3 linked regions of the Homo sapiens genome follow. The protein of the gene in region 3 interacts with the protein of the main gene of each other region in a pairwise test. Each region holds a gene or a part of one and is shown on either strand. Other genes may lie near its edges. The genes, in order: CD14, CXCR4 and TLR2.

Region 1 (7,324 bases), on a different chromosome or scaffold from region 3:
CAGGAATAAAGGCTCTCGTGCCCCTTTGTTCAGGTGTGCTCTCATGGCGACTGGCCAAGCAGACACCCCTCTGAGCAGAAGTAAAATTGCTTTGCTAATAATCCTTTGTTCGAGTGTTCAATTTCCCTTAGGATTTTGAGCGTTATTCCTAAGAGAAAGAAAAGAAAGAAAGGAAGGAAGAAAGAAAGAAAGAAAGAAAGGGAGAAAAGAAAGAAAGAAAAGAAAAGAGGAAAGGAGGAAGGGAAGAGAGGGGAGGGGGAAAGAGAGAAAGACATTGGTTTGTGGGACAACAGAAAGGCGGGACAACTCGAAGTGGGGCGGTGGGGGGCTTCCAGCTTATAGGTAGATTTTAAATTTTTCTGGTTGACAATTGGTTGAGTTTCTCTAAAGACCTGAAATCAATAGAAAGGAATGTCTGGGTTAAGATAAAGGATTGTGGAGACCCAAGTTCTTATTTGCAGAGGAAACCTTCAAATCCTAGGCTTCAGAGAGAATGGGTTGTAAAATGTTTCTTATCAAACTTAAAGTCTGTGTTGATGTTAACGGTAGAGAGGTATAATGAGGCACGTTCAACCCCTACTTCCCATCATGGCCTGAAACGGTCACTCGGGTTTAATTTTGAAAGAGCCCTGGCTGAGGAGGAAGTCCATTCAGATGGTTGTGGGGGGCGGCCTTAGAATTTTATTTTTGCTTTACAGAATGTTCACCACAATGACCATTATTCTCATTTTATATGTGATGAAAATGAGAAAGATATCATTATTTCACTTCTCTGCATAAAACTGAATTCCCATAATTTTTAGGATAAAATCTTTCACCAAATGTGGAGTGCCACTAGTCTACTAGGCACTGAGGAAACACTAGTGAATAAAAAACCGTGTTCCTCACATTCAAAATTGGAATTGTGGCCGACTTAGCCCTACATGGTCTAACCCCTGCATACCTCTCCAATCTGGACTCACCTCTTCTGGGACCTTCTCTTTGTCAACAAGCCCTGTTCTTTTTCTCCTCCACCCTACTCCCACTCTTGGGGGAGGCTCTCGCACAAGCTGTTTTCTCTGCCTGCATCCTTCCCTTTTCTTTCTACCAGCATCCTTCCCTCAACACCATTCTCAACATGTCAAGTCCAGTGTCACCTACTCAGAACCATTGTACCAATGACCCAGCTTCTTCACAACCCTTTTCACAGCTATCATTAAGTTATAGTGTAATTATTTGATGTTGTCTCCTCCCAGACCCCCTTGGCAGCTCCAGAAGATTAGGGTCCCGGTGGCACCTAAGAATTTTTACAGGAAACCTCTAATTTTTAAAAAGCCATATAACTTAGGCAAAGGTTCAATTAAGTACAAATCTAGGAAAAAGGTTATTCTTAAAACCAATTTCTTTCCCTTGAACTTAATTCTACCCCTTGGAGTTAATCAATGAAGTCTGCAATCTCTTCCACAAAACAGCATGTTAAAATATCTACAGGCCATCATTCCATCCTCCATATCTTCTCTCCCAGTATCCATCCAGCCCCTGGAGAGCCATTTACTGAGTACCTGCTGTGCACCATGCTCTGGCCAGGGATAGGGCCTGGATCTTGAGCCCTTCCTCATGCAACTGTCTGGCTTCTTTTTTTAATTTTTTAATTAAAAAAAATTTATTTTCTTATTTCCCCAAGAAAAACTTTTTTATTTTTATTTTATTTATTTATTTTTTTTTTTGAGCCAGGGTCTTGCTCGGTTGCCCACGCTGCAGTGCAGTAGTGCAATCATGGCTTATCACAGCCTGGAACTCAGCCTTAAATGATCCTTTCAGCTTGGCCTCCCAAAGTGCTAGAATTACTGGCATGAGCCACTGCACCTAACCCAGGCTAGCTTCTAAGACCCACACTTGGCCCAGCAAGGTGGCTCATGCCTATAATCCCAGCACTTTGGGAGATGGAGGCAGGTGGATCACCTGAGGTCAGGAGTTCGAGACCAGCATGACCAACATGGTGAAACCCCGTCTCTACTAAAAATGCAAAATTAACCAGGTGTGGTGGCACGTGCTTGTAATCCCAGCTACTCAGGAGACTGAGGCAGGAGACTCGCTTGAACCCAGGAGGTGGAGGTTGCGATGAGCCAAGATTGCATCATTGCACTCCAGCCTGGGCAACAAGAGTGAAACTCCATCTAAAACAACAACAATAACAACAACAACAAAACCCACATGTGCTCCAGGTGGGGAAGATGAAAAAAGTTCCCAGCCAAAAGCTATATTCTGCCCAGTGTCTGCTCAGACAGCTACAGCTGCCCAAATTGCCTTTCTGTATCTACCTGTCTAGCAACACTGTTAACCCTGTAAGAACCAGCCCCATGTCCTGTCTTGTACAGGGCTGGCTGTTCCTTTCTCCAGACCATGTTCCTCCCCTCCACCCCTCTCCCCCAACAACACAAGCCTTTGGTTTCTCTTCTTTTAAGAGCCCTCTGCACTATGGACGGAAGTTCTGGGTTCATGTTTGCTCTACCCACCTCCTGGAGCACTTCAGGGACTTGTCTTTGTCATGTCTGTGTCCCAGGGCTTTCTACCAACCCTAGTACTCGGTAGACAAATGATAGACATTTGTTGAATCAAGCTGTGAGTTGGAGATCTTTGCAGAACCATCACTGCCCCTCTTAACTTGGAACTCCCCACCCAGAGTGCCTCCCCTAAGATGATGAGGTGTCAGACTTCAGTGGCCTGAGTTCTCTGAAAGCAGAGACTCTGAGAAAGAAGACTAGTCATCAAGACCACACTAAAAAGATGTGTTTCTGTGCCAAAGACTTTACTCACAAACAGGTAATACTATCATCTCCATTTTACAGAAGGGAGGCCCAAGTCTCATAACCTCAGTCGTAAAGCTGGGATTCCAAGACTGGCTATCTGACTTTGAGTCAGATATAATCATATCTTGGTCCTCAGGGATATCACAGAGGCCTGGCATGGCACCAGGGCATGGCCCAGTGCATTGGGGTATGCCCAACAGGACCCGCAGGGGGCAGTGATGAGCCTTCTTGTTTGGATTGGGGACAAATCTGCAGCTACTTCTTTCTCAATTAAAGAGGAAGTGGGAATTTAAAAAAGACTTTCTGCCGGGCACGGTGGCTCATGCCTGTAATCCCAGCACTTTGGGAGGCCGAGGCAGGTGAATCACCTGAGGTCGGGAGTTCGAGACCAGCCTGACCAACATGGAGAAACCCCATCTCTACTAAAAATACAAAATTAGCCGGGTGTAGTGGCACATGCCTGTAATCCCAGCCGCTCGGGAAGCTGAGGCAGGAGAATTGCTGGAACCTGGGAGGCGGAGATTGCAGTGAGCTGAGATCGCGCCCAGCCTGGGCAACAAGAACAAAACTCCGTCTCAAATAAATAAATAAAAGTAAAAAAGACTTTCAGGCCGGGTGTGGTGGCTCTCGCCTGTAATCCCAGCACTTTGAGAGGCCAAGGCGGGCGGATCACCTGAGGTCAGGAGTGCCTGGTCAACATAGTGAAACTCTGTCTCTACTAAAACTACAAAAATTAGCCGGGCATGGTGGTGGGCTCCTGTAATCCCAGCTACTCAGGAATCTGAGGCAAGAGAATTGCTTGAACTTGGGAGGCGGAGGTTGCAGTGAGCCAAGATCACGCCACTGCACTCCAGCCTGGGCAACAGAGCCAAACTCAGTCTCAAAAAAAAAAAAAAAAAAAAAGACTTTCATATAGTTCTTTCCCCAGAGGTCTAGGGATGTGGACCTGTGAGGGCTGTTGTAAATGCGTAGCTCCTTATTCTCTGGGACATTTGTTGTTTTTTTGTTTTGTTTTGTTTGCTGTTTTTTTCATTTTGTTTTGTTTTCTGTTTTTGTCTGTTTTTTGCGAAACTGGTGAGTTACTAATTAATCCTCATTCAACATAGTCCCATCCCTTCCTTCCTAGGGCACAGAGATTGTACTGAGGGGAGGGCAGGAGAGAGCAACGTGCAAGTGGGAAAACTGATTCAAAATACCTTGCTTCACAATTTCAGGACAGAAAATGGATAGTGTAAGTGACCCAGAGACTTGGCCAATGTGTCTCTGTTAAATACATCCACTTTTAAGAAAGTTAGTACTGCCAGGCACAGTGGCTCACGCCTGTAATCCCAGCACTTTGGGAGGCCGAGGCGGGTGGATCACAAGGTCAGGAGTTCAAGACCAGCCTGGCCAAGATGATGAAAACCTGTCTCTACTAAAAAATACAAAAATTAGCTGGGTGTGGTGGTGGGCACTTGTAATCCCAGCTACTCGGGAGGCTGAGGCAGAGAATTGCTTGAACCCAGGAGGCGGAGGTTGCAGTGAGCCGAGATCATGGCACTCTACTCCAGCCTGAGCAACAGAGCAAGACTCTATCTCAAAAAAAAAAAAAAAAAAGAAAGAAAGTTATTACTTAATCAAAGGAGCAAGGAAAAAAAAAGGAAGGGGGAATTTTTCTTTAGACCAACTTCCTTTTCTTGAACCTAATTCTACCCCCCTTGGTGCCAACAGATGAGGTTCACAATCTCTTCCACAAAACATGCAGTTAAATATCTGAGGATATTCAGGGACTTGGATTTGGTGGCAGGAGATCAACATAAACCAAGACAAGGAAGAAGTCAAAGAAATGAATCAAGTAGATTCTCTGGGATATAAGGTAGGGGGATTGGGGGGTTGGATAGTGCAGAGTATGGTACTGGCCTAAGGCACTGAGGATCATCCTTTTCCCACACCCACCAGAGAAGGCTTAGGCTCCCGAGTCAACAGGGCATTCACCGCCTGGGGCGCCTGAGTCATCAGGACACTGCCAGGAGACACAGAACCCTAGATGCCCTGCAGAATCCTTCCTGTTACGGTCCCCCTCCCTGAAACATCCTTCATTGCAATATTTCCAGGAAAGGAAGGGGGCTGGCTCGGAGGAAGAGAGGTGGGGAGGTGATCAGGGTTCACAGAGGAGGGAACTGAATGACATCCCAGGATTACATAAACTGTCAGAGGCAGCCGAAGAGTTCACAAGTGTGAAGCCTGGAAGCCGGCGGGTGCCGCTGTGTAGGAAAGAAGCTAAAGCACTTCCAGAGCCTGTCCGGAGCTCAGAGGTTCGGAAGACTTATCGACCATGGTGAGTGTAGGGTCTTGGGGTCGAACGCGTGCCACTCGGGAGCCACAGGGGTTGGATGGGGCCTCCTAGACCTCTGCTCTCTCCCCAGGAGCGCGCGTCCTGCTTGTTGCTGCTGCTGCTGCCGCTGGTGCACGTCTCTGCGACCACGCCAGAACCTTGTGAGCTGGACGATGAAGATTTCCGCTGCGTCTGCAACTTCTCCGAACCTCAGCCCGACTGGTCCGAAGCCTTCCAGTGTGTGTCTGCAGTAGAGGTGGAGATCCATGCCGGCGGTCTCAACCTAGAGCCGTTTCTAAAGCGCGTCGATGCGGACGCCGACCCGCGGCAGTATGCTGACACGGTCAAGGCTCTCCGCGTGCGGCGGCTCACAGTGGGAGCCGCACAGGTTCCTGCTCAGCTACTGGTAGGCGCCCTGCGTGTGCTAGCGTACTCCCGCCTCAAGGAACTGACGCTCGAGGACCTAAAGATAACCGGCACCATGCCTCCGCTGCCTCTGGAAGCCACAGGACTTGCACTTTCCAGCTTGCGCCTACGCAACGTGTCGTGGGCGACAGGGCGTTCTTGGCTCGCCGAGCTGCAGCAGTGGCTCAAGCCAGGCCTCAAGGTACTGAGCATTGCCCAAGCACACTCGCCTGCCTTTTCCTGCGAACAGGTTCGCGCCTTCCCGGCCCTTACCAGCCTAGACCTGTCTGACAATCCTGGACTGGGCGAACGCGGACTGATGGCGGCTCTCTGTCCCCACAAGTTCCCGGCCATCCAGAATCTAGCGCTGCGCAACACAGGAATGGAGACGCCCACAGGCGTGTGCGCCGCACTGGCGGCGGCAGGTGTGCAGCCCCACAGCCTAGACCTCAGCCACAACTCGCTGCGCGCCACCGTAAACCCTAGCGCTCCGAGATGCATGTGGTCCAGCGCCCTGAACTCCCTCAATCTGTCGTTCGCTGGGCTGGAACAGGTGCCTAAAGGACTGCCAGCCAAGCTCAGAGTGCTCGATCTCAGCTGCAACAGACTGAACAGGGCGCCGCAGCCTGACGAGCTGCCCGAGGTGGATAACCTGACACTGGACGGGAATCCCTTCCTGGTCCCTGGAACTGCCCTCCCCCACGAGGGCTCAATGAACTCCGGCGTGGTCCCAGCCTGTGCACGTTCGACCCTGTCGGTGGGGGTGTCGGGAACCCTGGTGCTGCTCCAAGGGGCCCGGGGCTTTGCCTAAGATCCAAGACAGAATAATGAATGGACTCAAACTGCCTTGGCTTCAGGGGAGTCCCGTCAGGACGTTGAGGACTTTTCGACCAATTCAACCCTTTGCCCCACCTTTATTAAAATCTTAAACAACGGGTCCGTGTCATTCATTTAACAGACCTTTATTGGATGTCTGCTATGTGCTGGGCACAGTGCTGGATGGGGAATTCATCATACTTAGGCTTTCTTCATCCTAACTCCCTAAGAAACCCTATCTGTCCTCCTCAAGAAAAGAACTGCGGGGATAGAAGGAGCCAGGAAAGGACTCCTGGCTAGGGCTGCATGGGAGAAACAATGAGTGTGCAGTCAGGGCTTTCTGAGCAGATTATTGGCATCTGGATTAAAAGGTATTTGCATGATATTTGGAAGATACAAAATATTTCCTCTCCTATGCACTTCCCAAGAGCCAGCTGCTCCCTTTCAAAGGTAATAAAACCCACAGCCATTTGCTTATTTCCTTATTCTTTCTCTCTCTCACACACACACACACTCACACACCCTCCCTCTCCCTCTCTGTCTGTCTCCCTTACCACTCAAGGAAGAGGGACAGCCTCCTATCCTGCACAAGCTCTGAGTTTCATAATATTAGGGTTCCTCTCTTGTAAAACCTCTCTTCACCCGGAGGCTTTCACTGTGTCACTCCCCGACATAATGGGAAATTTGGGCCTAGGGAACTGACGCAAGATACAGTCGGTCTCTGAATTAGAGATCCTGTGTTCTGTTAGAACACATATGCAGATAACCTTTTCAGGCTGACTGATTGGCAAATAGGAAAGCATCTCAGACTCTTCAAAACTTCAGAATAAACAGGATTTGTCCTCTAGTCCACATTAGCTCAGAGACCTACAGCATCAGCCATCAAGAGGTGCTGTTTCTTCTGAGCCCCTTCTTCATTTCAATGAGGAGGCAGCCACATCCATCAGAGAGCTAGATGCCTGCCTCACAGGGAGCATGGGAGAAAGGTGGGAGGAGGCAT
Region 2 (8,466 bases), on a different chromosome or scaffold from region 3:
CTACATGCCTTTAACCAAGTTACTTAGGCTTTCTGTGCCTCCGTTTCCTCTTCTATAAAATGTAATTAGTAACAGAAGCAGAATCTATCAGAGTTGTGATAAGGGGTAAGTAAAATATTACAATGAAATACCTAGGATAGTGCTTTGCATACCATAAATGTATTACTTTTGTCTTCTACTAGCCAAAAGAATGTCAACAGAAATCAGAACATAACACTAAGTAAGTTTAACATGTACTTTTATTAACAACTTAATACAAGACTGTACACTGTAGGTGCTGAAATCAACCCACTCCTGAAAACTGAAAAACCAGCATTTCTATACCACTTTGGGCTTTGGTTATAAGTGCCATCTTCTACAGCAAAATCACGTCTTAAGAACAGGAAAAACGTTCCACGGGAATGGAGAGATTATCTATGCATAAACAGCTGGGGATCATTTCTAGCTTTACGTGATTCACTACACGCTCTGGAATGTTCAGTTCCCTTTTCTACAGTCCTACCACGAGACATACAGCAACTAAGAACTTGGCCACAGGTCCTGCCTAGACACACATCAATATGAAACAAAAAAAATTTATATAAATAAGTCAATTAAACTTCACAAAAACTAAAGAAACACAAGACAAAAATCCAACAAGCAATAAAAACTGTACAATATTGGTCAGTCTTTTATATCTGAAAAATGTGTAACTTAAAAAAAAGTTATTTATCGTATAAAAAAAAGTCTTTTACATCTGTGTTAGCTGGAGTGAAAACTTGAAGACTCAGACTCAGTGGAAACAGATGAATGTCCACCTCGCTTTCCTTTGGAGAGGATCTTGAGGCTGGACCCTCTGCTCACAGAGGTGAGTGCGTGCTGGGCAGAGGTTTTAAATTTGGCTCCAAGGAAAGCATAGAGGATGGGGTTCAGACAACAGTGGAAGAAAGCTAGGGCCTCGGTGATGGAAATCCACTTGTGCACAGTGTTCTCAAACTCACACCCTTGCTTGATGATTTCCAGGAGGATGAAGGAGTCGATGCTGATCCCAATGTAGTAAGGCAGCCAACAGGCGAAGAAAGCCAGGATGAGGATGACTGTGGTCTTGAGGGCCTTGCGCTTCTGGTGGCCCTTGGAGTGTGACAGCTTGGAGATGATAATGCAATAGCAGGACAGGATGACAATACCAGGCAGGATAAGGCCAACCATGATGTGCTGAAACTGGAACACAACCACCCACAAGTCATTGGGGTAGAAGCGGTCACAGATATATCTGTCATCTGCCTCACTGACGTTGGCAAAGATGAAGTCGGGAATAGTCAGCAGGAGGGCAGGGATCCAGACGCCAACATAGACCACCTTTTCAGCCAACAGCTTCCTTGGCCTCTGACTGTTGGTGGCGTGGACGATGGCCAGGTAGCGGTCCAGACTGATGAAGGCCAGGATGAGGACACTGCTGTAGAGGTTGACTGTGTAGATGACATGGACTGCCTTGCATAGGAAGTTCCCAAAGTACCAGTTTGCCACGGCATCAACTGCCCAGAAGGGAAGCGTGATGACAAAGAGGAGGTCGGCCACTGACAGGTGCAGCCTGTACTTGTCCGTCATGCTTCTCAGTTTCTTCTGGTAACCCATGACCAGGATGACCAATCCATTGCCCACAATGCCAGTTAAGAAGATGATGGAGTAGATGGTGGGCAGGAAGATTTTATTGAAATTAGCATTTTCTTCACGGAAACAGGGTTCCTTCATGGAGTCATAGTCCCCTGAGCCCATTTCCTCGGTGTAGTTATCTGAAGTGTATATCTGCAAAAGAGGCAAAGGAATGGACATTCACTTCCAATTCAGCAAGCATTAACCCAGTTAAAAAAAATTTTTAAAGCAATTTAAAAAACCAATTCAGGCTTGCTTTCTTCAGGAAATTCTGAAGTAGTGGGCTAAGGGCACAAGAGAATTAATGTAGAATCCTACAACTCTCCTCCCCATCTTTTCCCATAGTGACTTCATTATATCCTTCTTTGGTAGAACCAATTACAAAATTCTTTGTTTAGAACAAAAGGGCACTGAGACGCTGAGGGTTTCAAAGTCACATCTTGGCTAACTCCTCTGCCCCGCCCACTAGAGGGAAGAAAAAAAACCTTCCTTAGGAGGAAAAAAAAAATACACACAAAGAGGCCACTCCCAGGCGGCGTGGGGGGTGGGGTGGGTGCTGCTAGGAGGGGCAGTGATTAACTTTTTGTAAGAAGTTTTTCGCCCAGGGAGGGAAGAGGGGAGAAGGGAGGATCACGGGGGGAGGGCGGGGGCGTTGCAAAGACTCATTCTCCTAAAGCGCAAAAACTTAATTTTCCCACGCCTGCCTAAATACAAACCATTCTGGGCTTCAAGCAACTTGTAGTGGGTAAAGAGAATGCGGTCTTAAAACGAAGGCCCTTCGGTGCTTGGGGTATATTGGGCGGGAGTGTCAGAAAATGAACAAACGGCACCTCCTCCCCCAAGCGGGCGCTCCTCCGGTGTGTGGGTCTCTTGCCATCCTCGTGTTTATCACTTGGCGCGTTTGGGACGTTAGGGAGCGGGGCATTTTCCTGGGTGGAGAAGGTAACGGGGTCTGCACCCGTGGTCCTCGCCCCAAGTTTCATTTCCTCACTCTCCCGGGTGGCTTCCCATTACCCCGCCACTGATCCAGTTAACCCGGCCGGAGGTGGGCAGCTGGAAGCCTCCAGGCGGTGGGCACGCGGGGGGCCGGGTCGTCCAGCCCCGGGCCGCCGCGGCTGCCCACTACACCCACGCCAACCGCCCGCAAGCAGCGCTGCAGGGGCTCCGCTGGGCGACACGCCAGGCTCTGTCCCACAGGGTGCTGGGGAGCGACTGGGCGGCTCCGCCGCGAGCGTCTTTGAATTGCGCGCCGCTGCAGGAAACCAAAAACTCCCTAGCAAGAGGGTTTCAAAAGGTTTCTGGAAACCACCGACGGTTAAACATCACAACTGGACTCGGAGAGAGCCAAACGGTTTCCCCACTTGCACCTGCCAGTCTTCGCGGCGGCGACCTGGCAGCCCAGGTGCGGTCTTAACCGCCCCCGCCCCTCACCCCGTACCCGCTCCTATCCCCGGAGCGCAAATCTCAGGGCTGGCAGCTGCGCGGTGTCAAAGGGGAGGTCAAACCACTCCGCTGACCTCTGCACGACCCCAAACTCTCGAACTGCAGGACCCACTCGCGGCCGTGGGGAAGAGGCGCGCTTCGGACGGCGGGAAGGTTTTCCCCCTCAAACCCAAAGCGCGCGGGCGGATCAACTCCTAGCTGCTGCCACCACTCGATCCCCTCAGAGGATCGGCGCGGTGGGTCCACCCGCCTCTCCCGCCCTCTGCCTACTGTGCTGGGAGACTGGCACAGCTCCGTCGGCCGCACAGAGTTTAACAAACACGCACCCAGTGTCAAGAACAGTCACCAGGCGCTTAACCCCGAAGTTAAAGCGGGCGCAATCTCCTCCTGGGAACTCAGCCCAGGCACGCCGCCCTCCGCCTCTAAATTCAGACAATGTAACTCGCTCCAAGACATCCCCGCTTCCCCAAGGAAGAGACCGGTGGTCTGAGTCCCGAGGCAGCGCGCACGCCTTCTCTGCACTTGTGCACAGAATGTTCTTACGTTTGCAAACAGCGTGCAAGCCGCCGCGCGCGGCGGGACTCAAGGGGGAGACACATGCAGCCACTGGAACGCTCTTTCCAGTCGTTTCTCCTCGACTCACAGAGAAAAAGATTCCAATCCTGCTCCCCCCCCACCCACCCGCACTATATAGGCATGGTCAAGAAAACTCCTTTCGGTGACCCTTTTTTGGAGTACGGGTACCTCCAATGTCCTGGCCGCTTCTGCCCGCTCGGAGAGGGGCTGCGCTCTAAGTTCAAACGTTTGTACATTTATGACAAAGCAGGTTGAAACTGGACTTACACTGATCCCCTCCATGGTAACCGCTGGTTCTCCAGATGCGGTGGCTACTGGAGCACTCAGGCCCTCGGCGTCACTTTGCTACCTGCTGCCGCAGCCAACAAACTGAAGTTTCTGGCCGCGGCCGGACTTTTATAAAAACACGCTCCGAGCGCGGCGCATGCGCCGCTGGGGCGGGGAGGGAGAAGGCGGGGTGGGGGAGAGGGGCAGACGCGAGGAAGGAGGGCGCAGGGGCGGGGCGGAGAGGTGCGCGGCTTGGGAAGCCCAGGGGACCCTGCTGTTTGCGGGTGGTCGGTAGTGAGTCCGGAGCCGGACAGGACCTCCCAGAGGCATTTCCTAAGTTTGAGGGAAGCGGGATGCGCCTGAAGACAGGTGGGAAGCGCGGGCTAGGAACGCGTCTCTCTGTGGCGCGTCCATCCTTGCTAAAGTGGATGGAATTCCAGACCTGGGAATGCTACAGTAGAGACACTGAGGCCCAGGGAAGGGGAGTGACTTGCTGGAGTAACCCAACCAGTAGGCGGCAATGCTGGAAGTAGGGCCAAGCTTCCAACGCCATTCCCCGCGCTTTCAGCAGACGCAGCCCATTCAGGAGGTAAAAGGAGTAAAGATCCTTCCTTCGGAGGATGTAGCTATACTTGCACATTCACAGCATCACTAGGGTCAGGTGCAGATAATTAGGAGATACTTTCAGAAGAAGGTAGGATTTGGCATAATTCTGGAGACTGATCAGATGTAGATATGTATTGCTCAGTAATTTCATAATAGCGGTAACCAATTCGCGAATAGTGCTTTATTATCCTAAAAGTATGCTTTATTATAAGAGTAATTTAGCGACCAGTACTTTTTGTAACAGATCACTAGGAACTTGCACAGAATCACTCATTCATTCTCACAACACCGTGTGGGTATTACCATCACAGAGATGCATTTAGTCCGATATTTATAGAAGGACGAACTGCGTGCCACGCACTGTTCTAGGCGTTGGGGATCCAGCGTGAACCAGACAAGGCCCGCATTCGGAGAAACCAGCAAATAAGCCCGGAGAGATGAAATGCCAGGGATGGGCAGGGATTCCAAGCCGGGCTTGAACCCAGGTCTTCGGTCCCCATACTCGGCGTCTTCCACGATTTTGAGCAGAGGACAAGCTTTGGCACGAATCAGAAATTAGGTTGAAGAACTGGGCGGGGCGGAGTGGGGGTGGGGGTCAGACGTTTAAAGCGATCTCAGACTGGCTGAGGTTTGCAGTGGGCGCGCAGACAGTGCTTTCCCCCTCGCGCCACTTCCCTCCGGCGCGGAGACTGGGTGGGGCGGGGGAGCGAGTGTGGGGCGGGGCCGAGAAACTGCGTCCGCAGGCGGGGTGGCCGCTGCGGAGATAGCTGGGACCGAGGCGCGTGCGTCGCGACACGGACCCCAGAGGCCCCCACCCCGAAATGGTCCCGAGGAGAGGGATTGCCCAGACTGCACTCTACACACGATCCCTCTTTTCTATATCAAAAGAGGAAACATTTCAGTCTGGAGTGTTCCAGAGGTAGTTCGGAGGCAGGGAACCTTTTCTCTACAGAGCATGACTTTCCCCCTTTGTCTGGGACCCCTCCCTAATGTTGGTGGTTAAAGGTTCTCATCTACTCTGCACTTTCACTGACACAGGAAAGATGATATCCGGGCCGGGAGATGGGACTCTCAGAAACGAACGAGTTAGGACACACACTAATGGCCAGATAAAATCAATTCTAATATTACATTTGTAGAATTAAAAAAAAAAAAAGAAACTCCAGGTTCTTGGAGGGTGGTGGCTGGAAGAGGTTTCGGAAGCTCCACGCCCCTTCTCACAGGCCTTGCATTACGTATCTCTTCATCTGTATCCTTTATAATATCCTTTATAATAAACGATAACGGTAAGAAATAAAAATGAAAATAAAACCGTAAAAACACTTTTACTTTTTTCGAATCTTTAATAAAACTTAAGGATCTTCATATTTTTATAGACACGGTAGATCCTATCTACTGAAGGTCTAGAATTTCAGAGCGTTTTCATGACTTGCTTTTCACAAAGCCTGGTAGTGGCAGAATCAGTATGTTTTATCCTGGACCGTAAGCTGCACCCTACCTCAAAACTCCTCCCTGCACGATGTCTAAAACCTGAAAGGTGAGATCTCCCAAATCTGTCCAAAAAGGGAAAGAGGAGAAAACTCGGAGCAAAATGGTTTGCATAATAAATATTTGTTGATTGTAGACAGACAAAAGAAAGCTCCTTCCTTTATCTGAAGACTCCTTTCAGATCTTTTTAGGGATCTCTACTAAAAGGAAGCAGATAATTAAAAGAACAATGAGATGCTATTTGGTGACTACCAAATTAGGCAAAAATCCATTTTTTTTCAAAGATAATATTTGGTCTCCGGATTTGAAAAGACCAGCTGTCTCTCGCTTGTCACTGATGGGAATGTGGCTTGGGACAGCCTCACTGGAAAGCATTTTCTATTCAGCAGGAACTTCAGAACAGTAACTCCACTCATAAAAACTTATGCCACAAAGGTATTTGTGGAAACATTTTTTTTTAAATAGTGAAATGTCTGAACATCCCTAAATAACCACTGTTAGTGGAATAGTTGACAAGATTTTGGTTCATCCACATCTGAAATTCCATATGGACATCGCGAATGTTATTTGTGAAGAATTTTTAGTGACATGGGGAAATACTTATGAAACATTAAGTGCAAAAGGCAGGATTCAGAATTGTGTATATAGTGTGATCTCAGTTATGTTAAAATATGCATTTGGAAAATATAGGGAGGAAAACCAAAATGTTTATAGGCGTTTTCCTTGGTGCAGAATTATATTTGATTTTTGCTTTCTTCCTGGGGTTTTTCTATGCTTTCCAGATTTTCTGTAATAGACATGAATCATTTTCATATTCATAAAAAAGCCAACAAATTGTATGACAAAAAGGGAATCAGAAGGCCTCCTTCATGTATGTTTCCACTTCTAAAGTATCTACTAAGATGTCAGACTTTTTTCACAATAGTCCTTTCCCCTTTCAAGGAAGGCTTGTTTTCCAATGGGCTAATCTTAAACTTCTATTTCCACTGGGCTACCTAAACCTTATTCTCAACTATTCTATGATGTTCTTTAAAAAACAAACAAAACTCAAGCATTTACTGAGCGCTTGTTATGTGCAACTGACCTCATATAATCCCCTCAATAACTCTACAAGGCAGGTGCCATTACTTTTATTACATGGTAAAGAAATTAGGGTCTGGAAAGATGAGGAACTGGCCTGTGACCCCGGAATGAGGATCTGCACCCAGTCTGTCTGGCTCTGAAGCCCAGGTCATTTGGCATTTACGTACATACTGCTTTGAGTGGCATCCCTTGTGATGTTACTCAACTTTTAAATGAGTATATGTCATACTCCTATCCCTCCAATATTTTAGGTTCCTTAAAGTGAATGCCCAGATATCCTCTATCCAGCTAGCCCATTGCTGAACAAATACTGGGCTCCTTAATCTTTTACTGAACCTTTCTTAAAAGAATGAATGACTTTCCTGTGTGGCTCTGGCAACAGAGTCAGGCTTAGGGGCTGTCAGGGATTTGGCAGGGTCCCCAACTTCTCAGGTTGGCTTTAGCCCAGGGAATAACTAGCCTTGGCCACAGTTTGGAGGGGATGCTTACAAATCCAGTGACACAGTGGCAAGCATCCTGCCACCTCCTGTTGCTCGCTCTGCAGCTGGTTGATTTGTGTGTGAGTGTGTGTATCTGTGTGTGTGTGATGAAAAGCTGTACTCTGTCCCTAAATTGGCTTCATGTTAGCTAGGCAGAAAGCTTAGGAACAGACCTTTTCCCAGTGGTGGATGGCAGGAGGTTAGAGAAAGGAGGAGGTGCCAGGAGGAGGTGGATGGCAGGAGGCATTAAAGGCCTTCAGAATACACAGGGTCTTCTGGTTCCTTCGCTGGCCCCTCTCCTGTCTCTAAAAAAATTGATCGCTTTTGTTTCTGAAAGAGGAAAAAAGTGCAAACTTCCTTGACAGTAGTAAGGGATACTTAGAGAAAGTTAATGTTTTCCTAAGTGATTAAAAAAAAAAAACAAAAACGGAGACTATTTCTCAAGGCGCAAGTAATTCTAACACAGGGTTACAAATCTCAAAGAGACAATGGTATCAAATGTCAACTATTTCCAAGCTGGTGTTAGGTGGAACAAATTGTCCCTTGCCTAACCACACCCCGCCCTCTCCTCCTTCCCTAAATCCTTCTGTCTCCAACACCTACAGATGAAAAGTGACTTTGAAAACAAACCCAAACCTTCCATCCTACAGTTCTTTACCAATTTAGGAAATTATTACTGTTTTTTGGGGGAGAGCCATTTTTACTCTAGATTTAAGTTGTATCTTGAATGTTGAAAAGGTCTGCCTTCACTAAAATGGGATGATTAGTGATTTCCATCAATGCTTTATAGCAGTCAAGACTAGTCAACAAATTTCCTATACAAAGAGAATAAACTAGACTAGTAAACAAATATAGGCAATTTAGAGCCATCCTGGTAAGTCATTTAAACAAA
Region 3 (8,022 bases):
AGCTGAAATCACAGAGCATACTTAAAATCTGACCATATACTGGCTCATAGAGTAAATTGCAATACATTTTAAAGAATTTAAATCATACAGAATATGTCTTCTGACCATAATGCAATTAAAGTAGAAAAGAACAGAAAAACTTATAGAAAATTCTCATATATTTGGAAATTAGTAAATTTCTAAATAACCCATGGGTCAAAAAATAATCAGAATGAAAATCAGAAAATATTTTTAATGACTTATGAAAAAAATTACATATAAAAACTTGTCAGATGCACCTAAACTGTTGCTTAAAGGAAACTTACAACCTTAAGTGCATATATTAGAAATGAAGAGTGACGAAAAATGAATGAGCAAGCAAATACCTTAAAAACTGGAAAAGGAATAGTAAAATAAATCCAGAGAAATCAGAACAGGGGAAATAATAATATAAGAATAGAAATTAATGTGCTAGAAAATAGGGGATCTATCAAGTCAGAAGTTGATTTTTTGAAAATGCTAATAAAAATGATGAACCTCTGGCAAGACAATAAAAGCTGGTACAAATAACTCATCTAAGGAATAAAATTGAGGACCTCTCTTTTGTTAAATGACATAAGCAGGAGGCCATTATCCTGAGACTGTCTCTACACTTTGAGTTCTTACATAATAAACTGCAACCTAATTTAGTATACTACATAAACAAACTGAAACCTAACTTAGGAGCTTTTTTTTTGTAATTAATAGCTAAATTTCCACCAAATCATAAATAGCCAAGCTTTAGCCAATCACAGGCAGCCAACTGATCAGACTATGCCCAAACAAGGTAAATGCCTATTACACCATACCCAAATAAGGCAGACTCCTAGCTGAAGCCAATCAGGTGATTACTATGCTCTTGTGTTTGGCCTATAAAAGCTCACTGCTCACACTGTTGGATGCTCTCTGAAACTTTTGTGAATCTGAGTGCTGCCTGATTCATGAATCATTCTTTGCTAAAATAAACTCTGTCAAATTTAATTTGTCTGAAGTTTCTCTTTTAACAGTGTTTGGTGTTGCAAGCAGGATCCAAAGGAGACCTATAGTGACTCCCAGGAGCTCTTAGTGACCAAGTGAAGGTACCTGTGGGGCTCATTGTGCCCATTGCTCTTTCACTGCTTTCAACTGGTAGTTGTGGGTAAGTTCCTGCTCAGACTTGAGCACTATACATTTGCATTTTCAGCTCTCTGACTTTATTTGAGCAATTCTTTGATGGATTGGCTCCAGAATTGGATTGGATTCAGTGAAGAAACTGAAACTGGACTGGTGCTCTAGGAGGCCTCAAGTAGATAAGGTTACTAGAAGACAGGGAATCCTGGGCTTATCTGGATTTAAGGAGTCTACAACTCCATCTGCAACTCCAGCCGATTTCATTTATAAGAATTATGGACCAAGAACCTGTGCTTTTCTAGAGAAATGTGTGAGCCTTACTAAAGGTAACTTAGAATTACAATGGACTGCTGAGACCAGCTCGGTCGTGGAGACCCTAACCCAGCAGCGCTAGAGGAATCAAAGACACACACACAGAAATGTAGAGTGTGGAGTGGGAAATCAGGGGACTCACAGCCTTCAGAGCTGAGAGCCCCTAACAGAGATTTACCCACATATTTACTGACAGCAAGCCAGTGATAAGCATTATCGCTATAGATTATAGATTAACTAAAAGTATTCCTTACAGGAAACAAAGGGATGGGCCGAAACAAAGGGATAGGCTCTGGCTAGATGTCTGCAGCAGGAACACGTCCTTAAGGCACAGATTGCTCATGCTATTGTTGTGGCTTAGGAACACGTTAAGCGGTTTTCTGCCCTGGGTGGGCCAGGTGTTCCTTGCCCTCATTCCAGTAAACCCACAACCTTCAGCGTGGGCGTCATGGCTGTCACAAACATGTCACAGTGCTGCAGAGATTTTGTTTATGGCCAAATCTGGGGCTAGTTTATGGCCAGGTTTGGGAGCCTGTTCCCACATGTCCCCCTTTTTTGTTTTGCAAAGCAATAAAAGCAAAGGCAGCTTTGTCACAGTGAGCTACTTCTTGCAGGAGTCGGGATTCGCATATGCATACTATACAAAGACAAACAACACAGATTAAAAGCACAACCATCATTGAAATCACAGAGCTTCCAAGTGTCTTTATCTATTTTAATGGGTTAATCACTGCTAATCTGTCTGCAGCTCCTTCAAGCACTCCAGTTCCTGGCATTAAGGTCTGGTGTGCCTGGAATGCTTTAAATATTTGTTCTTTTAATATTGCAATATGGAAAGACAAGTTTGTAGAGTGTCTTCTAGGTGCTTTTTTATTCTTTCCTGAATTTGGTCTTATTTAAGAGCCATTAATAGTTTCCACAAATCCTTATGTTTAGCTCCTACAGCGGGCCATATCATTTGAGGGTGAGGTGCCACTATACCATCATGTTTCCAGATAATAGGAACTCTTGCCATATTTCTTGCTATTTCTACCATCTGACCATTTTGTTTAGACCAGCTAAACATAGTGTGGCCATGGCACGCAGACTGAGAGGTGCAATTTAAGCTAAACATCCCCTTAGGGGACCAATCAATAATGATTCCATAGGAATCACTGCGCAGCACCTCTGCCTATTCTGCAATGCAATCTTCCCAAACAAGTATGTTCATTATTTCTGGCCAGGTCCAATTCTGTTTACAAATAGGTTTTTGAGGGCAATATGCCTCAATTATAGAAACAGATTTATTATGGTAAATACTGAGATCAGAAAGCATGTGTAACTGTGTCATAGAATGATTACATCCAGGCATTATTGCCAGCCAAGATTGATAAATATGCCCAATAAGTATAATTGTTCTCTGTGTTAGCCCTTGTTGAAGGAATACTAATGGCAATGGTGATCACTGCTATCATAGCTATCATTAAATTACTCATTGTGACTGGTTGTCCCACTTTCCTCAGGTTTTCTTCCACCCTCTATGGCAGTTTCTTGATCTGTCCCCAGGTAGATGGCTGTGTTTGATGGTTGTTGCTCGTGATAGTTTGGGTCCTCCTCAGCATCAGTCTCGACATGGCTGCAACCAGAGGGTCCTCGGGATCCTCCCAGAATCTCTTCCTTGGCATCTGGCTCATGATAAGGTTTCAGGTGTCTTGATGGTATCCAAATCAGCTATTGATTCTGGCCTGGAGAAACACAAGCATAACCTCTACCCCAAGTTATTATTTTACCTATTTCCCAACTTTTTGTTGTCAGATCTCTGCACCAAGCCAGTTGTTCTGCTTCTGTTTTTGCAGCTGGTTTCTGTAGATGCTCTTCAGCTGCTGATAGCATCTGGCCTTTAGGCAGGCTCAAAAAATTTAAAGTCATTAATGCTAGATTCAGTTGTATATGGGGTGTCCTGTAATCCCTGTTTCCCCTTTTTGCTTTTGCAACTGCTGTTTCAGGGAGAGATTCATTCTTTCTACAATGGTTTGTCCTTGAGAATTATATGGGATGCCAGTAATGTGTTTAATATTCCATATAGAGAAAAATGTAGCTAGAGCTTGGCTAGTATAGCCTGGGGCATTATCTGTTTTAACAGAAGTTGGAATTCCTATCACCACAAAACACTGCAAAAGGTGATGCTTAACACATGCAGTCTCCTGATTGGCATGTAGCCCAGACAAAGTGAGAAAAGGTGTCCACACATACATGTACATAAGCTAGTCTCCCAAACGAGGGAACGTGTGACATCCATTTGCTAAAGATAATTAGGTTCCAATCCTCGAGGATTAACTCCTCCTGTTAAAGATGAGGAATGCACCATTTGGCAAGTTGGGCATCACTGGATAATAGCTTTAGCTTCTTTCCAGGTACTGTTATATCTGCATTTGAGACCAGAGGCATTAACATGGGTTAAATTGTGAAAGTGTCTAGCATTAGATATTGCAGTAGCAACTAGGCGATCAGCCATTTGATTCCCTTCAGTTAAAGGTCCTGGAAGAGGTGTATGAGCCCTAATGTGAGTGATGTAAAAAGGGTGCATTCTACTCCTAAATGCTGTTTGCAATTGGGTAAATAAAGTCATCAGTTGTTCATCTGTATGAAGTCATAACTGAGCATTTTCAATTAATTGTATGGAATGAACCACATAGGAAGAATCAGAAATCACATTAATAGGCATATCAAAAGCAGTCAATACCTCAATTACAGCTAAAGCTCCACTTTTTGAGCTGAAGTATAGGGCGTGTGAAAAACTTTACCTTTTGATCCAGAATAAGAGGCTTTACCATTACAAGACCCATCTGTAAAAACATTCTCAGCACCTTCAGTTGGTTTAAATTTAGTTATTTTGGGGAGAATCCAATTAGTTAATTTCAAAAATTGAAATAATTTCATTTTAGGAAAATGATTATCAAGAATACCCACAAAGTCAGCTAAATGGGTTTGCCAAGTAAGACTATTTATAGAAGCTTGCTGTATTTGTGCCTTTGTGAGAGGGACAATAATTTTTCCAGGATCATATCCATGTAATTTAACAATCCGAATTCTCCCATTTCTTATCATCGTAGCCATTTGATCCAAATAAGGAGTTAGAGTCTGTGAATTAGTATGTGGAAGAAAAAGCCACTGTACAAAGTCTTGCTCTTATACAATAACACCAGTAAGTGAATGCTGAGTTGGAAAAATTAGCAAATCTAGGGTCTTTTTTGGATCTATTCTATTTATTTGAGATTTATGGATTTGCTTTTTGATTAGCTGCAGCTCTGCCTCAGCTTCTTTTGTTAATTGCTGAGGGCTAATGAGACTAGGATCTCCTCTAAGGATAGAAAATAGATTACTCAGGGCATAGGTGGGAATGCCTAGAGCAGGTCATATCCGATTAATGTCCCCTAGTAATTTTTGAAAGTCATTTAATGTTTTCAATTGATCCCTACGTATAGTTACTTTCTGTGGCACAATGGTAGTGTCATTTACTAAGGTCCCCAAGTAGGAGTAAGGAGTAGTAGTCTGAATTTTGTCAGGAGCTATATAATTAAACTGGCATGAGAAATCGAGTTTTGCAAGTGATCATAACATTGGAGTAATATTTCTTGAGTGGGGGCAGCACAAAGTATATTATCCATATAATGAATAATGTAACACTGTGAAAATTTTTTACGAGTAGGTTCAATTGCTTGCCCTTCATAAGTCTGGCAAATTTTTGAACTGTTTCACATGCCTTGTAGCAACACTTTCCAATACAAATGCTTTAGTATGCTGCAGGTTTTTTACTGCAGGAATTGTAAATGCAAACAGTTCACAGCCTTGCTCAGCTAAGGGGATAGTAAAGAAACAGTCTTTTAAATTTATGACTATTAAAGGCCAATTTTTTGGAATCATAGCAGAAGAAGGCAGTCCCGGCTGCAATGTCCCCATAGGTTGTATAACTGAATTAATGGCTCTTAAGTCAGTTAACATTCTGCATTTACCTGATTTTTTCTTAATTACAAAAACTGGAGAATTCCAAGGGGAAAATGTTGAGCTATGTGTCCTTTTTCTAATTGTTCAGCAACTAAGTCCTCTAAAGCCTCCAGTTTCTCTTTACTCAGCAGCCATTGTGCTATCCAAATTGGCTTATCTGTTAACCATTTTAAAGGTATATAGGTTCTGGAGGCTTAACAATGGCCACCATCAAAAATGATATCCTAAACCTTGGTGGGAACTTTGTCTTTCCGCTTGAAGCATTTCCTTCAAAGCTTGCAAATTTTTTCCTAGTCCCATACCAGGGACATACCCCATTTCATGCATCATATGTTGACTTTGAGGGCTGTATAATTATTCTGGAATTAGAACTTGTGATCCCCATTGTTGTAATAAATCTCTTCCCTATAAATTTATAGGTACAGAAGTTATAATTTTTTGTATAGTCCCAGGTTGTCCATTGGGCCCTTCACAATGCAAAATATAACTACTTTGATATACTTTAAGGGCTTTACCAACTCCAACTATGTTAAATTGAGCAGGTTGAATTGACCATGCAGATGGCCAGTGCTGTACAGAAATGATTGAAATGTCCGCTCCTGTATCTACCAAACTTTTAAATTTCTTTCCCTGAATAGTTATTTCACCAGTAGGATGTTTATCAGTAATTTGATTCACCCAATAAGCTGCTTTGCCTTGTTTATTTGTGCTTCCAAATCTTCCTGTTCATTTAATTTCACTTTTCCCCATTTCCACATATGGCATAATCAGGAGCTGTGCTATATGCTCTCCTGGCTCTGCTTTCCAGGGAACAGAAGTAGATATAACAATTTGAATTTCCCCTTTGTAATCTGAATCAATGACTCCTGTTTGTACTTGCACGCCTTTTAAATTTAAACTAGACCTACCTAGAAGTAATCCTACCATCCCCGCTGGCATCATCTGACTGGAGACAGCAACCTTCTTTAACAGTCCCATTACAAAAGGAGAACCTGTTCCATATGGATTAATAGCTTGTTTAAATTCTTTGAGTAATTTAAAAGGAAAAGGCTCAAATGTAGCTATAATATTTCCCTGTTGATCTACGGGGTATATTCTAACAGGGAACTGCTAAGCCTCTATATCACCCTCTCTTCTAACTTGCTGAATTCCTGGCTGAATAGAACTGAGAGTGGTCGCTCGAGGTGCTGCTCAGTCACTGGGGCGACTACTTTTTGCCCAGTGTCCTCTGGAAAAGAAAGATCTGGAGGATCAGGCTACTCTTTTGCTTCGAAATAATGAGGGGGTGCAGAAGGGTAGGGACAAACCTCTCCCTCCTTTGCCACTTTAGCTTTAGCTGGCAAACAAACCTGCTCTGTCACCTCTTCTGTTACTTCATTATACTTTCCTTCCTCCTCATCTTTAGTGTGAAAAGGTTCCAAGGTGGAATGAGCTAGAGCCCACACTTGCCCATTGTTACCCTGATGCTTCCGAGCTCCCCTTCTTACTCACCATGGGGATTGCTTAAGAGTACTCGGGTATCCTCCAGCTTTGTTCCACGTTTTCCAACCATTGCTCCAGCGAGCCTTCATCCTGGGTTTGAGTCCCCACGTTGGGCGCCACTTGCCGAGACCAGCTCGGTCGTGGAGACCCTAACCCAGCAGTGCTAGAGGAATTAAAGACACACACACAGAAACATAGAGTGTGGAGTGGGAAATCAGGGGATTCACAGCCTTCAGAGCTGAGAGCCCTGAACAGAGATTTACCCACGTATTTATTGACAGCAAGCCGGTGATAAGCATTATTTCTGTAGATTATAGATTAACTAAAAGTATTCCTTACAGGAAACAAAGGGATGGGCCAAAACAAAGCGATGGGCTCTGGCTAGATATCTGCAGCAGGAACACGTCCTTAAGGCACAGATCGCTCATGCTATTGTTTGTGGCTTAGGAATGCCTTAAGTGGTTTTCCATCTTGGGTGGACCAGGTGTTCCTTGCCCTCATTCCAGTAAACCCACAACCTTCAGTGTGGGCGTCATGGCCATCACAAACATGTCACAGTGCTGCAGAGATTTTGTTTATGGCAAGATCTGGGGCCAGTTTATGGCCAGATTTGAGGGCCTGTTCCCAACAGTGGACAAAGAAGAAAAGCTGCTTAAGGCAAACAGGCACATATTTTTTAAAGCTACAATAGCTAGACAAACTAAGAGAATCCTGTGTATGTTTTACTTTTGTATTTTTATTTTTAATATTTGTGGATACATAGTAGATGTATATATTTATGGGGCACTTGAGATATTTTGATACAGGCATACAATGGATAATAATAACATCACGGTAAAAGGGGTATCCATTACCTCAAGCATTTATCCTTTCTTTGTGTTATAAACAATCCAATTAAACCTTTTATCATAAAATGTACAATAATGTTGACTGTGGTCACCCTGTTTTGCTATCAAAGAATAAATCTTATTCATTTTATCTAAGTATATTTGTGTACCCATTAACCATCCCAGTCCCCCTGCTCCTCCAACTACACTTCCCAGCCTCTGTTAACCATCATTCTACTCTCTTATCTCCATGAGTTCAATTGTTTTAATTTGTAGCTCCCACAAATAA

The links.
Region 1: the proteins of TLR2 (region 3) and CD14 come close enough for resonance energy transfer, tested with the Homo sapiens proteins (one study listed by IntAct).
Region 2: the proteins of TLR2 (region 3) and CXCR4 interact in binary tests that used the Homo sapiens proteins (3 or more experiments, as listed by UniProt).

The regions. Positions count from the first base shown.
Region 1 is NC_000005.10:140,630,851-140,638,174, reverse strand, and holds CD14 (monocyte differentiation antigen CD14 precursor), read left to right. Parts: upstream 1-4,999; 5' UTR 5,000-5,103; coding exon 5,104-5,106; intron 5,107-5,194; coding exon 5,195-6,319; 3' UTR 6,320-6,443; downstream 6,444-7,324. UniProt on the Homo sapiens protein: Coreceptor for bacterial lipopolysaccharide. In concert with LBP, binds to monomeric lipopolysaccharide and delivers it to the LY96/TLR4 complex, thereby mediating the innate immune response to bacterial lipopolysaccharide (LPS).
Region 2 is NC_000002.12:136,114,128-136,122,593, forward strand, and holds CXCR4 (C-X-C chemokine receptor type 4), read right to left. Parts: upstream 4,023-8,466; 5' UTR 3,934-4,022; coding exon 3,919-3,933; intron 3,743-3,918; exon of another isoform or gene 3,402-3,742; intron 2,847-3,401; exon of another isoform or gene 2,616-2,846; coding exon of another isoform or gene 2,349-2,615; intron 2,109-2,348; exon of another isoform or gene 1,813-2,108; coding exon of another isoform or gene 1,786-1,812; coding exon 742-1,785; 3' UTR 222-741; downstream 1-221.
Region 3 is NC_000004.12:153,686,892-153,694,913, forward strand, and holds part of TLR2 (toll-like receptor 2 precursor), read left to right. Parts: exon of another isoform or gene 1-1,010; 5' UTR 1,011-1,156; intron 1,157-1,162; exon of another isoform or gene 1,163-1,454; intron 1,455-8,022. UniProt on the Homo sapiens protein: Cooperates with LY96 to mediate the innate immune response to bacterial lipoproteins and other microbial cell wall components. Cooperates with TLR1 or TLR6 to mediate the innate immune response to bacterial lipoproteins or lipopeptides.